2 separate regions of the Homo sapiens genome follow, and region 2 is linked to region 1. A link means that fine-mapping ties the variant in region 1 to the expression of a gene that starts in the linked region. Tissue or cell type: whole blood. Region 1 holds a variant in brackets; the other region holds the start of a gene. All regions are shown on one strand. Distances are from middle to middle. Region 1 holds the start of EFCAB10 (EF-hand calcium binding domain 10). Region 2 holds the start of RINT1 (RAD50 interactor 1).

What was found. PIP is the estimated chance that this variant, and not a neighbour inherited with it, causes the effect.
Region 2: RINT1 starts here. The variant in region 1 is fine-mapped to the expression of RINT1 in whole blood (TOPMed, PIP 0.94).

What each region holds. Positions count from the first base shown.
Region 1 is chr7:105,575,968-105,585,222 of GRCh38, forward strand. It overlaps EFCAB10 (EF-hand calcium binding domain 10), which reads right to left and starts at 5,526. Exons shown (of 5, transcript NM_001355526.2): 1 at 5,391-5,526. The coding sequence starts at 5,496. It also overlaps the pseudogene YBX1P2. RefSeq lists enhancers at 4,918-5,430, 5,431-5,941. The variant CTTTAT/C (reference allele first, on the strand shown) is at 4,023.
Region 2 is chr7:105,527,258-105,536,512 of GRCh38, forward strand. It overlaps RINT1 (RAD50 interactor 1), which reads left to right and starts at 4,944. Exons shown (of 15, transcript NM_021930.6): 1 at 4,944-5,100; 2 at 5,567-5,612. The coding sequence starts at 5,059. It also overlaps the pseudogene LOC100131785. RefSeq lists enhancers at 4,225-4,274, 4,562-5,139, 4,725-5,024, 5,115-5,294, 5,140-5,716.

The sequences.
Region 1 (9,255 bases):
CAGAGGTTGCAGTGAGCTGAGATCGCGCCATTGCACTCCAGCCTGGGCAACAAGAGCGAAACTCCGTCTCAACAAAAAAAGAAATACCAGGGGCTTCACAAAGACACAGGATAAAGCTAGTGTGTCTTTCTAAGCATCAATCATACCTTGGTGAGTAATATAAAACATTTATATTAAGAAATAGGTATAGCTACGAAAGAACAGATCTCATGTATTTTTAGGACAAAACGACTTCAAAGAAACTTCTTATGCCACATCAGGCTAAGGTCCCAGACACTGAATGGACAAGTCCTTTCTCCTCTGCCATTAGGAGGACTTAGGCAGAAAACTTCAACAGCACTGCATACATACTCTGCATGCCAGCCCACCCCTTCTTTAGCTTCATTACCTTCTTATTCTGGCTCAGTGTTTCTGTACCTATGGTTTCCTCTCCCCAGCTTTGGTGTTTATAAAGATATTTTAAGGAATTCTCATCATCATTATTATTATTATTAAGACAGATTCTCACTCTGTTGCCCAGGCTGGAGTGCAGTGGCACAATCTCAGCTCACTGCAAGCTCCGCCTCCCAGGCTCACACCATTCTTCTGCCTCAGCCTCCTGAATAGCTGGGACTACAGGTGCCTCCCACCATGCTTGGCTCATTTTTTTTGTATTTTTAGTAGAGATGGAGTTTCACTGTGTTAGCCAGGATGGCCTCGATATCCTGACCTCGTGATCCGCCTGCCTTGGCCTCCCAAAGTGCTGGGATTACAGGTGTGAGCCACCGCGCCTAGCCGGAATTCTCATTATTGAAGATGGTACCCAGCCAGGTGCAGTGACTTACACCTGTAATCCAAGCACTTTGGGAGGTCAAGGTGAGAGGATCACTTGAGGTCAGGAGTTCGAGACCAGTCTGGACAACATGGCAAAACCCCGTCTCTACTAAAAATACAAAAATTAGCTGGGCATGGTGGTTTGCACCTGTAATCCCAGCTACTCTGGAGACTGAGGCATGAGAATCACTTGAACCCCAGAGGCGGAGGTTGCAGTGAGCCAAGATGTGCCACTGTACCCCAGGCTGGGCGACAGGGCAAAACTCCGTCTTAAAAAAAAAAAAAAGTGGTACCCATGTCTCAGTTTTAAAAAAACAGCTACACTATTTATGTGATAGGTATATAATTAATGTATGAGTATTCCCAGACTTCCCTTCCACCAAAGAGAATTTTGTCTTTATCTGCTTAGGTTCTTTTCCCCCCATAATGCCTTCTACTGGAAAATTCTGGTTTTGCCAGATGGGTGCAAGGCTTTTTGTGCTGGAGGAAAAAAAGAATCTTCAAGATGCTAAATTGTTTGACATAATAAAGAGCTGAGAAAAACATGCAAGATAGGGAGGAGACAGAAGAGTTGGATGGGCTGAGTGTCATGAATTTGGAACCTGATAGGATCTGCAGCTGCTGTGGAGAATACAGCTGGGAACAAGGAGGAAGGACTTTTGAGTGGTTTTACTGTGGATTATGAATTGAAGTCTTTTTGATTCCTTTCAAATTACTCTTGATTGCTGGAATGACTGTGCTGCTTTGAGTGTGATTCTGTGTTGCAACCGAGATGGCCAAATGGAGGCCTCTGTGTGTATTATAACTGTTTGAGATGCTCAGAGACTATCCTGAAGTTCACTCAGATCAGGTAAGTGGGCTCATGTTGTGACTCAGAAAAATTAAGTTTTCATTCAGTTGACCCATTGGCTGCCATGGTGCTTTTGTCTGTTCAATTTTTTTTTTTTTTTTTCCTTGAGGCAGAGTCTTGTTCTGTCACCCAGGCTGGAAGTGCAGTGGTGCAATCTCAGCTCACTGCAACCTCTGCCTCCGCGTTCAAGCGATTCTCCTGTCTCAGCCTCCCGAATAACTGATTACAAGCATGTGCCACTACACCTGATTTTGTATTTTTAGTAGAGACAGCATTTCACTGTGCCACCATATCTGGATAATTTTGTATTTTTAGTAGAGATAGTTTTTCACCACGTTGGCCAGGCTGGTCTCGAACTCCTGACCTCAAGTGATCTACCCACCTTGGCCTCCCAAAGTGCTGGGATTATAGGCGTGAGCCACCATCCCAAGCCTGTCTTTTTAAATTTTGTTGTTCATATCATGTTTAAGATACCCGTATTCAGGATAATCAAAGGTTCCAGTTGGCCTGGGACAGTCCTAGTTTACCATGTTGTCCTGGCATAATTATTAATAGTACCTATTTTCACTCAAAATATCCCCGGTTTGGATGATAACTCATACAGTCATCTTACCCATAAAGAACGACTAATGAAGACAGGAAATGTAAGTATAAGTCAGTGAGGAGCATCAAAATAACAATTTGGTAAATTCTCAAGAGAATCTGCAGATTCATAAATTGCATTCTTCTGATAAAAATTATACAACATATCAAGATGTAAAGTAAATTAGAAAATCAAGCCAAGATGTCCAATATCCAATAATAATTCCAGAAAGATATAGGTAAGGAAAATAAGAAAAATACTTCCTAGACCTGAAAGAAAAATATCTCCAAATTTAATAAGACCATAAAGTACCTAGAGCACAAACATTAACAGCAACCACAACAAAACCATTCCAAGGCATATATTTAGGACACCAGGGATAAGATAAAAAGACAATCCTAAAAAGTTTCTGGAAAGAATAAACTTGCCTCATAGCCAGATCAAGTATCTGATGACATATGACATCAGAATTCTTCAGAGCAACATGAGAAATTAGAAGACAATGGGGCAATGCCTTAAAAATTCTGAGGGCAATATGTTCCAAGTTAAAATTGTGTCCACTCTTATTTTATTTTATGAGACAGAGTCTCACTCTGTTGCTCAGGCTGGAGTGCAACAGTGAAATCTCAGCTCACTGTAACCTCTACTTCCCAGGTTCAAGTGATTCTCCTGCCAGAGTCTCCCTAGTAGCTGGGACTAGAGGCACATGCCACCATGCCTGGCTAATTTTTGTATTTTTAGTAGAGATGGGGTTTCACCATGTTGGCCAGGCTGGTCTCTAGCTCTTGACCTCAAGTGATCCACCCGCCTTGGCCTCTCAAAGTGTTGGGAGGTGTGAGCCTCCGTGCACAGCCTCCACTCTATTAAAAAGTTTTGAATGTAGGAACTCACATTTTTATATACGTGTGTTCCCAAAATCTTTACCCCTCAAAGCACGCTCTCTCAGGAAGCCACTAAAGGATATGCTCCACCAGAAGAAAGCGGTAAAGCAAGAATGAGGGATTACTGGCTGTGCCATAAAACAGGCTCTGAACACTAGAAAGGCGAGGAGTCGTCTTAGGATCAGAGTGAGGGGAAGCCGTGAATAACCACTGTGTAGCTATCAGTCCAGACTGGAGCAGGAAGACACACAGCTGGGGGTACGGGGTTTGGGTGGTGGTGGTGGGGGTAATTACCCAATGAATGCAAATGTAATGAGAGGACAGCTGTACTGTGGCAAAAGAGGGTATGGATGAATTAGTGATGATCACACAAATTTAAGCCAAAAATGTAAATATATTATTAACCAGGGAAAACAACAAGGGAAATATAATCAGCATACTATAAGGATTATAGATACTTGCCTAACAATATTAAAAATTCTGAATACTGAGGATATCAAAATTGTGATCTAAATTTATCTGGAAGATGGGTGTGAGTGGGAACAGGTGTATGAGGTGTGTGTTTAAGAAAGGCGCATTTTCATCTTCCACAGCATAAAGCTAGTATCTAACCTAGAGGGAAAAACATTAAGCAGCAGCAATATAGGCCTGTTATTTAGAAATCTCAAGATAAATAGCAAAGAATATTGCTAAAAGAGTTGAAATTATTCTGTGCAGAAGCTGGGGATAGCAACAGGAATGCTGTTATTATAAGCTTTGGAGTACTTTTCAATTTTTAAACCCCATACATCCACTTCAATAAAAATGAAATTTAAAAATAAATGTTGACAAATATTTTATATAACGAATGTAACATAATATATCCCTTGTTATGATGAAGAAAATTAACATTTGT[CTTTAT/C]TTTTAGTTTTTTTTTTGAGAAGGTGTTTTACTCTGTCACCTGGCTTGAGTAGCAATCTCCGCTCAATGCAACCTCCGCCTCCCAGGTTCACGTGATCCTCCCACATCAGCCTCTTGAGTAGCTGGGATTATAGGCACGCACCACCACGTGCAGCTAAGTTTTTTTATTTTTAATAGAGATGGGGTTTTGCCATGTTGCCCAGGCTGGTCTATGAACTCCTGAAGTCAAGTGATCTGCCCACCACAGCCTCCCAGAGCGTTGGTATTATAGGCGTGAGTCACCGCCCCCAAGGAGCTTCACGAATAGCTGGGATTACAGGCATGCGCTACCACACCCGGCTAATTTTTTGTATTTGTAGCAGACACGAGGTTTCACCATGTTGGCCAGGCTGGTCTCAAACTCCTGAACTCAAGTGATCCACCCGCTTCGGCCTCCCAAAGTACTGGGATTACAGGCCTGAGCCACTGCTCCTGGCCTATTTTTTATTTTTATTTTTATTTTTGAGATAGGATCTCGCTTTGTCGCCCAGGCTGCAGTGGCGCCATCTCGTGCCCGGCCTTTTTTTTTCTTTCTAATATTTGTTTTAATACTTTAAAACAACTAGCAAGAACTCTGTCTCCTATACATGATATTGGTTGGGTGTTTTTTGGCAAAATTGGAATGTTTGGTATTTCCACTTCCTTACACAGAAGCAAATGGACAATTTTGGCATTTCGGACGCTCCATATGGAGGTCGGCAAATTACAATTCTGCACCCTGGGGAGGACATAAAACCATTTTCACCTAAATATAACTTTTAAATGACACACCACTCCCAAATTACAAAACGATTCAAATTTTGTAGGGGGTTCAGATGTGTAAAAAAAGTCAGGAAAAGCGATCCCCTCTAGAACATCTTCTATCCTACCCTATCAATTGTTTAGTTGCCAGATTAAAAACTTTGGCCGTGCGCGGTGGCTCACGCCTACAATCCCAGCACTTTGAGGCGCCGAGGCGTGCAGATCACCTGAGGTCAGGAGTTCGAGACCAGCCTGACCAACATGACGAAACCCTGTCGCTACTAAAAATACAAAAATTAGCCATGCATGGTGGCGGGCGCCTGTAATCTCAGCCACTCAGGAGGCTGAGGCAGGAGAATCGCCCCTGAGAATCGCCACCAGGAGGTGGAGGTTGTAGTGAAATGAGATCACGCCATTGTACTGCAGCCTGAGGGACTTTTATTGAAGGCCGCAGAGTTAATCAACAGCAGAAGGGCTCACGTGGCTGGGAGGCAGTGGAAAGCGAATGTGTAAGAGGGGGGTTTCGTGTGGGAAGCGAACCCCACATGGAGGTATGGCTGTACCGGGGCATGGGGGCCCTTACCCGGCCGAAAGAAAAGGAGGGCGCTGGTGAGGTAGCTAACCACCTCCTTGATCTGATGCTTTTCCAAATACTCCGCGGCTTGGAGCTCCCTGCTGCTGGTCTCCATCGCTCCGCGTCCCGCTGTTGCTAGGCGACTGCCTGGCGTCTCAGCCGTGCGACTCTGTCTCCCTCTACCCGGCGCGGTCACGTGACACGCCTGACTGCCCTGTGGCTGCGACCCGGACCTGGAATTTCTAGAGCTCACGGTTCAGGGCAAGCCTGGGGCATGTAGCAGGGCAGAGAGGGCAGGTGAGGTGTGGACCAACGTCACTGTCCGCGATCCAGGCTTAGGGCTGGGCCCAGGTGCCTTTTTCCATCTCTCTCTAGCACCTAGCTCGGTACTTGTTGATCCAATGATTAACAAGGCTTGAAGTGCTGGCATCACAACTCAGCATGAACTAATAACAGAAGGAACTTGTGCAATTTTGAGGGTGCCCAGTGGAGAGTTCTTTTTATTATTATTATTTAAGACCTTTATTAACAGGTGCTTGCAGTTTGTTGACTTTTTTGAAAAAATCAAGTTGTAAACTTTTATTACAAATTAAAAATAAAGTGCTTAAAAATCTCATCTTGACCAGATATGAAACAATTTAAAAACCTTTAAAGGCGTATTGAGAAAAACAAGGCTTTTTAAAAAAAACACGTTTGTTATTACCAAAAAGAGACATATTTAGGTAAAAATAATAAAAACCCCATGCTGCATAGATAATGCAGATAGTTCTATTTATCTGGTCAACGGGCAAAAAGCAAGCACTTAAGGTCTTCAGCTCCAATCTTTTGTTCATTTCTTATTGCTGGAATTTCATATTTCTTCTTGTTGGATGACTAAACCGGATGATGGTAGAGATGGTAAGCCGGCATTTACTCAGCCCCGCCCTGCTCAGCCTCGGGAGCAGACGAATTCTCAGCTGGTGGATTGGCTGATTTTGTCTCTTTGCCATCTTGTGATTTAGGGTTTTCTGGGCATCTGCGTTGGTAATTGAAGTTGCTGCGGTACCGACGTTGAGGTGGCTGCTGACCCTGGGTCTCATCTCCTTGATTTTATCTTCTTCATTGCCGTACTCTCTAGGCTGTCTTTGGCAAGGAGGGCCCCTGCGGAATCGTGGTCTATATCCCCGATACATATTCTGCCTCACTGGTCTACCTTGTTCTCCTGCACCCTGGTTGTCAGCACCCTCCATCACTTCTCCCTGCACAGGAGGGCTGGAATACTGTGGTCGACACCCATAGGGTCTCCGCATGTAGTAAGGTGGGAACCTTTGCCTGCGGTAGGGCCGGCATTGTTGGGCCTGGCCTTCGGGAGCATTCTCCGATCCCTCGGTCTTTTCCCCACTCTCACTGTTCTGGTAATTTTGCTGGTAATTGCGTGGAGGACCCCTATGACGTGGATAGCGTCTATAATGGTTACGATCTGCTGCATATTTACCGCCTTGAACTCGAACACCACCAGGATCTGTAACATTTGCTGCCTCCGCACCCTCTTCTCCTTCAACAACATCAAACTCCACAGTCTCTTCATCTCCTACACTGCGAAGGTACTTCCTGGGGTTATTCTTTATGGCAGTCTGGTGTACAAATACATCTTCCTTGGTGTCATTCCTGTTGATGAAACCATATCCGTTCCTTACATTGAACCATTTTACTGTTCCCAAAACCTTCACTGCGATGACCTTCTTGTCCACGCTGGCAGGCGCCGCCGATGTGAGGCCGCCCGGACCACCGCTCCCTGCGCAGCTGCCCGTAGTGCCGGGCTTGGTGTCGGCGGCGCTGAGGGCGGGGGCGGCGGGGGGACGGGAGGGGGGCGGTGGGGGGAAAGGCGGGGGCGGCGGGTGGCTGCTGGGTCTCGGCCTTGCTGCTCATTGGTTGCGGTGATGGAGACTGGGGCCGGCTGCGGCAGCTGCGGCTCCTCCCGTGGTATGACGGTAACTAGGCCGGCAGCGGCGGGGCTGCTCAGGGTTCTCTGGGGTCCGCTCTCCGGGGTCCGCTCTCCGCTCCCGCTACCGATCGAACTCCCCAGTGGAGAGTTCTAAGTGGCATCTCTGGTGTGAGCGGCCTGCAGGCATGGCGCTGGCCACCAGTCAGGAAGGTCTTGGCCTGTTGGCTCGACTGGGTTGTGGGCCACAGAGCAGCCTGGATCCTGAGCTTCAACCCCTGTTTGCTGGAGCTGGTTTTATGAGATGGAGACCACCTGACATATTTATTTATTTATTTAGAGACGGATTTTCGCTCTTGTCGCCCAGGCTGGAGTACAATGGCGTGACCTTGGCTCACTGCAACCTCCACCTCCCAGGTTCAAGAGATTCTCCTGCCTCAGCCTCCCAAGTAGCTGGGATTACAGGCAGGCACCACTACACCCTAATTTTTTTTGTATTTTTTAGTAGAGATGGGGTTTCACCATCTTGGCCAGGCTGGTCTGGAACTCCTGTCTGTTGCAGGAAGTCAGGCACCCCAAACGGAGGGACCGGCTGAAGCCATGGCAGAATATAAATTGTGAAGATTTCATGGACATTTATCACTTCCCCAGTCAATACTCTTGTGATTTCCTATGCCTGTGTTTACTTTAATCTCTTAATCCCATTGTCTTTGTAAACTGAGGATGTATGTCGCCTCAGGATCCTGCGACGATTGTGTTAACTGCACAAATTGTTCGTAAGCATGTGTGTTTAAACAATATGAAATCTGGGCACCCTGAAAAAAGAACAGGATAACAGCAATGTTCAGGGAACAAGGGAGATAACCATTAGGTCTGGCTGCCTGAGAGCCAGGCAGAACAGAGCCATATTTCTCTTCTTTCAAAAGCAAATAGAAATATCACTGAATTCCTTTTCTCAGTAAGGAACAGACCTGAGAAAGAGAATGCCTTTCCAGGGGTTGGTCTCTAAAATGGCCTGTCTTTCTAAAATGGAATGTCTTTTACAGTTGCAGATAAGGGATGAAATAAGCCCCAGTCTCCTGTAGCACTCCGAGGCCTATTAGGATGAGGAAATTCCCACCTAGTAAATTTTTAGTCAGACGGCTTGTCTGCTCTCAAACCCTATCTCCTGATAAGATGTTATCAATGACAATGCGTGACTGAAACTTCATTAGCAATTTTAATTTCGCCTGGGTCCTATGATCTCGCCCTGCTTCCATTTGCCTTGTAATATTTTATTTCCTTGTAAAGCATGTGATCTCTGTGACCCACACCGTATTCGTACACTCCCTCCCCTTTGAAAATCACTAATAAAAACTTGCTGGTTTTGCGGCTTGGGGGGTATCACGGAACCTGCCGACATGTGATGTCTCCCCCGGATACCCAGCTTTAAAATTTCTCTCTCCTGTACTCTTTATTTCTCGGACTGTCTGACACTTAGGGAAATAGAAAAGAACCTACATGAAATAACATTGAATTATTGGGGGCGGGTTCCCCTGATACCTGTCCTCAGGTGATCCTCCCACCTCGGCCTCCCAAAGTGCTGGGATTACAGGCGTGAGCCACCGTGCCTGGCCCTGACAGTTGTTTTGACGGAGGGTCACTGAGTAAGGTGGGATGCAAGTAGCTAGGAGGGCCTCTACTCAGTCATGGGAAGACCTGAGAAACTAAAACTCTGGGCTGGGCCATCTGTCCTTGAGGGCCTGTGCCCACATGCTTCACCCAAGAGTTAGCGCAGAAGCCCCACTTCAAGAAGGGGAATGACAAGTGGTCAGTGAACATGTGAAAATATTCTAAGCCTCTTTGACAATCCAGTAAACAAAACTATAAGAAAATACCATTTCACATCTACCAGACTGATAAAGATTATGAAGTTGAACAATATTAAGTGCTGGCAAAGATGTCACACAATTA
Region 2 (9,255 bases), 49 kb before region 1:
CATTTTAGGCAAATAAGAAACTATGATTACTTCTCTTCTGTACTGCTTTTGTTTTTCCTCTAGTTAATAATTATCTTATTTTAGTTTACTATTCATCACTAGACCAAGCCCAAACCCCTCAATGATTGTGTAAATCTCCCCTTTCCAGAGGTTTAGATGAGGTGTTCTATTTTCATCTTTCTGAAGCAGTCTCTTCTGGAACCTCCTGGCCTACGCCAATCTACGCCTATTGCACAGTTGTTCTCAGGGCATCTCTGTTCCTGTATTGAATCTTTCTGTTTCCTATATCCTATGTCATCTTTATTCTTGGTTTACTCTCTTATTTTAGTGGAGTACAACCTTCAGTAGCTTCCCGAGAAAGGAGAAATAAATGAAAGCTTGCTGGGCGCGGTGGCTCACACCCGTGATTCCACTTTGGGAGGCCAAGGCAGGCGAATCACCTGAGGTCAGGAGTTCGAGACCAGCCTGAGCATGGCAAAACCCTGTCTCTACTAAAAATACAAAAACTAGCTTGGCATGGTGGTGGGCGCCTGTAATCCCAACTACTCGGGAGGCTGAGGCGGGAGAATTGCTTGAACCTGGGAGGCAGAGGTTGCAGTGAGCCAAGATCGTGCCATTGCACTCCAGTCTGGGTGACAGAGTGAGACTCTGTCTCAAATAAATAAATAAATAAATAAATAAATAAATAAATAAATAAAACAAAAGCTAAATTTTTTGAGATCTTTAATGTCTATTTTTATTCTTGACTACAAGAGTGTTAAAAAAAACCCCACATTTTTATTCTAACCTCACATTTGATTCATAGTTCACTAATTAAGTACAGAATTCCAGTTTTTGGCCAGGCGTGGTGGCTCACAACTGTAATCCAGCAATTTGGGAGGCTGAGGCGGGCAGATCACTTGAGGTCAGGAGTTTGAGACTAGACTGGCCAACATGGTGAAACCCCATCTCTACTAAAAATACAAAAATTAGCCAGGTGTGGTGGTGCACACCTGTAGTCCCAGCTACTTGGGAGGCTGAGACAGGAGAATCACTTGAACCTGGGAGGCAGAGGTTGCAGTGAGCTAAGATCTTGCCAATAAACTCCGGCCTGGGTGACAGAGTGAGACCCCGTCTCAAAATAAAAACAAACAAACAAAGTGTGGGAAGATAAATGTTGATAAATGTTCTAGGAAAAAAAAGCAAAAAACAAAACAAAACAAAGAAAAGGCCAGGCACAGTGGCTCATGCCTATAATCCCAGCACTTTGGGAGGCTGAGGTGGGCAGATCACCTGAGGTCAGGAGTTCAAGACCAGCCTGGCCAATGTGATGAAACCCCATCTCTACTAAAAATACAAAAATTAGGCGGGCATGATGGCGGGCACCTGTAATCCTGGCTACTAGGGAGGCTGAGGCAGAAGAATCACTTGAACCCCAGAGGCGGAGGTTGCAGTGAGCCAAGATCGTGCCACTGCACTCCAGCCTGGGCAACAGAACGAAACTCTGTCTCAAAGAAACAAACAAACAAATAATAAATAATAAAAGGGGCACTCACTTGTGAAAATGGGGAGGATAAAAATAAATAAATAAAATAAAAAGAGCATTCAGAGAACAAAAAATATGACAGCAGAAATTAAAAGCCTCCTGGGTTCAAGCAATTCTTGTTCCTCAGCCTACTAAGCAGCAGGGACTATAGGTGCACGTGCCACAATGGCCAGCTAATATTTTGTATTTTTAGTAGAGACCAGGTTTCACCATGTTGGCCAGGCTGGTCTCGAACTCCTGGCCTCAAGCGATCCACGTGCCTTGGCCTCCCAAAGTGTTGGGATTACAGGCGTGAGCCACTGCACTTGGCCTATCTTTCCACTCTTGAAATTTTAATTTCTGCTGTCATATTTTTTCATCTCTGAATGCTTTTCTTATTTTATTTATTTTTACCCTCCCCATTTACAAGTGAGTGCTCCTTTTATTATTCATTTATTTATCTATTTAATTATTTATGTTTGAGACAGAGTTTTGCTTTGTTGCCCAGCTGGAGTGCAGTGGTGTAATCTCGGCTCGCTGCAACCTCTGCCTGCTGGGTTCAAGAGATTCTCCTGCCTCAGCCTCCTGGGTAGCTGGGATTACAGGCTCCCACCACCAGGCCTGGCTAATTTTTGTACTTTTAGTAGAGACAGGCTTTCACCATGTTGGCCAGGCTGGTCTTGAACTCCTGACCTCAGGCAATTTGTTCTGCCTCAGCCTCCCAAAGTGCTGAGATTACAGGCAGGAGCCACCGTGCCCAGCCAATGCTCCTTTTAAATAGTATCCTTTTCTCTCATATGTGGGAGCTTAACATTAAACAAATTGAATTCAAGGAGATAGAGAGTAGAATGATTGTTACCAAAGGCTGAAAGGGTAGCAGGGAGGAAGGCATAAATTGGGGATGGTTAATGGGTCCAAAAATACAGTTAGGGGCCAGGTGCAGTGGCTCATGGCTGTAATCCTAGCACTTTGGGAGGTCAAGACAGGAGAATCGCTTGAGCTCAGGAGTAGAGCCCAGCCTGGGCAACATAGCGAGTCACTGTCTCAACAAAAAAAAGTTAGCCAGGAATGGTGGTGCCAGTCTATAGTCCTAGCTACTCAGGAGGCTGAGGTGGGTGGATCCCTTGAGCCCAGGAGTTTGAGGTTACAGTGGGTTATGGCTGCACCACTGCACTCCTGCCTGGGCAACAGAGGGAGAACTTGTCTCAAAAAACAAACAAAAAAACCAAAACCAAAACAAATGACGACAACAACAACAATAAAACAGAGTGACTACAGTTAATAATTTATTGCATATTTTAAAATAACTAAAAGAGTGGAATTGGACTGTTCCTAACACAAAGAAATGATAAATTCTCAAGATGATCAATACCCCAGTTACTCGGATTTGATAGTTACACATTGTATACCTGTATCAAAACATCACATGTCAGACGGCTGGGCAGCCATGGCGTCCTATATCGATGAACACGACTGTGAGCCGTTGGACCCTCAAGCAGGAGACTCGAACCAACATGGTGCTGGAGCTCGTAAGGTCACTTTTGAATAGGATGGACTTTGAAGACTTGGGGTTGGTAGTAGATTGGGACCACCACCTGCCTCCACCGGCTGCCAAGATTGTGGTTGAGAACCTCTCCAGGACAGTCATCAGAGGCTCTCAAGGCTGAGCTCAAGTGCCCCGTGTATCTTTTGGAATCTGAGGAGGAGACTGCCATTGAGATGCTTCCCAACACCTTTTTCATTCCAGTTGCATTCTGCCCTGGCTAAGCAAGACAAATTCCTGTCCCTTGTGCCGCCATGAGCTGCCCACTGATGACTACACTTATGAGGAACACAGACGAGATAAGGCTCGAAAACAGCAGCAGCAGCAGAACCGACTGGAGAACCTCCATGGAGCCATGTACACGTGAGGAGGCTGGGGCTGAGCGCCGGTCCTCTGTGTCTTCCCTACAAACCTTGAATCCTCATTAAAATTTCTTTACCCGTCCCCCGCCCCGCCCCAGAAAAAAAGGCCGGGCGCAGTGGCTCACACCTGTAATCCCAGCACTTTGGTACGCCAAGGCGGGCAGTTCACCCGAGGCCGGGAGTTCGAGACCAGCCTGACTAACATGGAGAAACATCGTCTCTACTAAAAATACAAAATTAGACGGGCGTGGTGGTGCATGCCTGTAATCCCAGCTACTTGGGAGGCTGAGGCAGGCGAATCGCTTGAACCTGGGAGGCGGAGGTTGCTGCGAGCAGAGATAACGCCATTGCACCCCAGCCTGAGCAAAAAAAAAACAAACACACATGTACACTATAAATATATACGATTATGTTCCCATAATAGGTAATTTAAAAAATAGTATCCTTGTTTTTTTTTTTTTTTTTAAATGAGACGGAGTCTTGCTCTGTCGTCCAGGCTAGAGTGCAGTGGTGCGGTCTCTGCTCACTGCACGCTCCACCTCCCGGGTTCACGCCATTCTCCTGCCTCAGCCTCCTGAGTAGCTGGGACTACAGGCGCCCACCACCACGCCTGGCTAATTTTTTGTATTTTTAGTAGAGACGGGGTTTCACCATGTTAGCCAGGATGGTCTCGATCTCCTGACCTCGTAATCTGCCTGCCTCGGCCTCCCAAAGTGCTGGGATTACAGGCGTGAGCCACAGCGCCCAGCCATCCTTGTTTTATGCTTGCAATAGTAATTTGTAGCTCGATTATATATCTCTGTGCACATGTATTTGATTTTTCTTCTCACCGTGTGGTTTCTTTTTCCTCTGAGGGTTGCTTTCCCCCCCCCTTGTTTGTTATGGTCTCTATGGTACTCCTTCCGTGTTAGTTTGTTTAAGAGGCTGTCAAGTCCACAGGTCCTCTACACAACCCTTGCTGCTAGGTAGCTCCCTTTCCTCCTCCCTGGTAAAAGACAGGGTTTTGGGCGAAACACATGTTAGATGCTCTGTTCTCTTCATTCAGCTCCCAGAACGCTTATAACCACCTCTACACCCTCTAGGCAGGAAATCAGAAGCTCATCTCTAGGGACTCTGACCAACGTTAAAAGAAATATCTAAAGATACTGACATTCATTGGAAACCCCCAACTAAATATTCGAACCAAATAACCCTGCACCGAAGCTCCTAGTCAACAAGCCCCCCACACTCTCAGAACATCTGGATATTGCCTAAAATATAAATTTAAATTATTCATATTGAATTTAAGGCGTTGGGAGAGGGATATCTTAAAGTTCCATCATTAAGAGCTTCAATAAAGTGGAGGGGACTTTTACCGCGGTGGAGTGAGCGAATCCCTTCTCTGGAGCTCCATAGGGGAGGGTGCCCGCTTCCTGAGTGGCCGTTCCGACCTCCGGTCAGGAGGGGGAGGAACAGAGCACGGCCGGCGGCTGCACGGGCAGGGCCTCTCTGGGCTGAGAGGAAGAAACCAGTGAGACATCGAGAGGAAGTCGCTGTGGCACTCAGTCCTACGGCCTCCGAGGCTGGGTAGTGAGTGTGTCGCTGGCCTTAGCCAGACTCCACAGGCCACGCTGGCTGCGAATGGAGCCGAGGACTCGCGCGGAGGCGAGATGCTACCAGCCGGCGAGATCGGCGCCTCTCCTGCAGCCCCGGTGAGACGGCCCTGGCGTCCCTGGGAGGGGACATTGGTGGCCCATTGAGGTGGCACAGACCTCCCGGGGGAGATAGTCCCGGTGCGGTGGCCCTGTAAGCTTGTGAAGGTGCTTCCTGCGGCTTAGATTAGAGGCCCTTGTAAGACCTCCTAGAGGAGGCGGTAGTCCCCGTGAAGTGGCTTTGGCGGCCCTGGTGAGATGACAGATTTCTCTAGGGAGGTGGCTCTAGTGAGCAGGCAAGGTAACTCCAGGTCCTGCGGAGGTGACACACACCTCCTGGGAAGGTGGCGGTGGCACCAGGACAGTGGCACTTTGAGGTACCTGATTCGGACGGCCCTGGTCGCTCAGAAAGTGGGAGAGCGTCTGGAACCTCTCTTGCCTCCAGTGGGTGCCCTTTGGGAGCCCCGTATGCTTTCCATCCACGACTTTAATCTTAATGTGCTTGTCACATCTGTTCTTCTTCTAGTGCTGCTCTGAAAGTGGTGACGAAAGGAAGAACCTCGAGGAGAAAAGTAAGCCAGCTCCAAACACCTTAGCTTTTTCTTCCCGCCCAAACTCAGCCTTCCAGGGTCTGCAATATAGAAAGGTTCTTTGCCTATCTTTTAGATGCAGTACCGTTTTCTGCACAATATGCTTATATGGTAATACTGATGACCATGATACACATATTTTTGTCTTTCTAAAATTGTAAAATATGGGATGCTTTGGAGAAGAGCACTTCCCGATCCATACCTAGTACAGGGACTAGAGTGTTTTCGCTGGAAGTCTGCCTATCATACAGTACTCAGAATAATTGGGGCCTGCCTGTCATTTTAATGAAACATCAACTTACTAAGCATCAGGAATTTGGAGGGGCCCATGATCTAGGACAGACGACCACCACCCTAATTGGGTTCAAAGGAGGCAAATGACAGTTGTTTAGTTCACCTTCAGTAAATTGGCAATTTAAAATTGCTCTGGCAAGAGCACAACGGATAACTTGGGTTCTGGATCTTGGACTGGACAGGAAAGGGGGAAAAGGTCAGTACCACCATTTCCTCCCTAGTACGGGAGTATATGTCAGGGTTGTGGACTTTTGCCATTTTACTTTGATGGCAGGTTATTGCAAATCAAGGGCTCTTTAGGGACCTTTGAAGTGACATTTTTTGGGAGAGGAAGGGGAAAAGCATGTGATAGCTCTGCTATTGGGATTTTTGGTTCTTTTGACTGTGGCAAACAGTTGGGAATGTGTAGCAGTAAGAAAAACGGTGCCCACATTAGCACATGGCCCTTAGGAGTAAGATTTGCCCTTAACATTAGCGGCTGATAGAATCTGCCTCAGAAAGAAGGCTCTGAGCAGTCCATAGCACATGACTGTCATAACTGCCACATCTCAGCTCCTTTTTCTTGAAGGATTTCAGAGTGCCTTGTATCTCTCAGTTAAACCCTTCCCTTTCCATTTTCCACCTTTGCCTCATTCAGATGCCTGGAAAGTAGTCTGATGCCTACTGAGCTGTCATTTTAATAAAATAATAGATGTAGACTATCATATCAAGGACTTTGACCTTGTTCCTCTTTCCACAGCTCAAACTGCTTTGCAGTTAGGAGTGCTCTTTACAAAAAATAGAAAAGGAGACACATAAAAACCTCCCAAACCACCGGTGTGTCATTTTGAAGAATGTCATTTCACTAAGAATGTACTATGCCACATTTGAATGGTTACACATCAAGGGTGTAATTTTTTTTTTTTTTGAGACTTAGTCTCACTCTGTCTCTCAGGCTGGAGTGCAGTGGCGCGATCTCGCCTTACTGCAAGCTCCGCCTCTGAGTTCAAGTAATTCCCCTGCCTCGGCCTCCTCAGTAGCTGGGATTACTGGTGCCCGCCAAACACCCGGCTAATTTTTGTATTTTTAGTAGAGGCAGGGTTTCACCATTTTGGTTAGGCTGGTCTTGAACTCCTGACCTCAGGCAATCCACCGTCCTCGGCCTTCCAAAGTGCTGGGATTATAGGCATGAGCCACTGTGCTCAGTGGGTGTAATTTTTTTTAAAAAATGAAGGTAGAATTTCCTCCCTAAGATACAGCAACTTTAGCATTCACAAAACATTTCCTGCCTCCATTTATCTGCAGATACACCACACAAATCACTTGTTTTATTTAAGATTTAAAAAAGGCATTGTGAGTTCTGTACATAATAGTAGATTATTATACGTTAATATTATATATAATTATATAGTATAATTAATATATAATTTGTATTATATAGTCCCATTTATAACCTTGAGATATAGGCTGGGGCAAATGTTACAATTTGTTTTCTAGTTGGAAAATTGAGGCATAGTGTTATGTTAATATTGCCTCTCCTACCCTCTAAATTGTCAATTTAAAATTGCTCTGGGAAGGCACAATGTATAGCTTGGGTTCTGGATCTTGCACTGAACAGGAAAGGGGGAAAAGGTCAGTACCACCTCCTGATTCTCACAGCATGTGAAAAATCTTTTAATTTAATTCATATAAGTTAAGTAGAACAAAGGAAATTTTGTTTGTTGGGGTGTAGGGGTGGAGACAGGAACATACTCTGTATAAAACATTGGTATATATTCTGTTAATCTTTACATAAATAGTTGACCAATATCTGACATTTACATTTTGCACTTAGGCATATCATTATTTAGATATTAATATTAATAAGCCTAATGTGTATTGGACTTATTAAATGTCACAAAACAGGTAGTTTATTTGCCATGGAAAGAATCTCACTTTATACTATTTAGTGGTTGCATTTGTCATTTTGATTTTTTCCTAGTAATTTGTTCTCTCATATTTTCTTTTTTCTGTTTCTGACAAAGATATCTTTGTACAATGACATCGATGACATTTGAAGCTTAAAAACCTTTTTTTTTTTTTTTTTTGAGGCAGAGTCTCACTCTGTTGCCCAGGCTGGAGTGCAGTGGCGTGATCTCGGCTCACTGCAACCTCCGCCTCCCGGGTTCAAGCGATTCTTCTGCCTCAGCCTCCCGAGTAGCTGGGACTATAAGCGTGCACCGCCATGCCCAGCTAATTTTTGTATTTTTAGTAGAGACAGGTTTTCACCATATTGGCCAGGCTGGTCTCGAACTCCTGACCTTGTGATCTGCCTGCCTCAACCTCCCAAAGTGCTGAGATTACAGGCCTGAGCCACCTCGCCCAGCCAAACCTTTTTTACTTTTTTGTTTGTTTGTTTGTTTGTTTTTAAGAGATGAGGTCTTGCTCTGCTGTCCAGGCTGGAATGTAGTAGTGAGATCATGGCTCACTGCAGCCTCCATCTCCCAGGCTGCTCAAGCAATCCTCCCACCTCAGCCCACCTGAGACTACAGGTGTGTTCCACCATTCCTGGCTAATTTTGTTAGATGAAGTCTTGCTTTGTTGCCTAGGCTGGTCTAGAACTTCTGGGCTCAAGTGATCCTCCTGCCTTGGCCTCCCACAGTGCTGGGATTACAGGTGTGAGCCCCTGCGCCCGGTCTTTTTAAAAACACTTTAAAACAAGAGTCTTCTTTTGGTGTTGCCCTAGACCATACTACTGGTTCCTTACACATTTTGAAAAGGTATTATTCCTTGTCTATTGAAACCTGTGGTTACTGGATCACACTTTAGGAATTTTTCCTTTAATACTTCCCTCAGCTCTTAAGCATTTTGCAGTAGTTGTTTGATAGAGTGCTTTAGAGCTATTCTTCTGGGCATTTGTCTGTGTGTGTTGTTCTTTAAATTATTAACTTTGTTTTGTTTTGGTTTTGTTTTTTGATACAGAGTCTCTGTCGCCCAGGCTGGAGTGCAGTGGCGCTTTGTTTTGGTTTTGTTTTTTGATACAGAGTCTGTCTGTGTCGCCCAGGCTGGAGTGCAGTGGTGTGATCTTGGCTCACTGCAACCTCTGCCTCTTGGGTTCAAGGGATTCTCGTGCCTCAGCCTCCCGAATAGCTGGGACTACAGGCCTGTGCCCCCACGCCTGGCTAATTTTTGTATTTTTAGTAGAGACGGGATTTCGCCGTGTTTGCCAGGCTAGTCTTAAACTCCTGGCCTCAGGTGATGCACCTGCCTCAGCCTCCCAAAGTGCTGGGATCACAGGTGTGAGCCACCGTGCCTGGCAAAATTATTAACTTTTGAAGGCAGATAAACTGCTTTTATATGTTTTATATTTTCT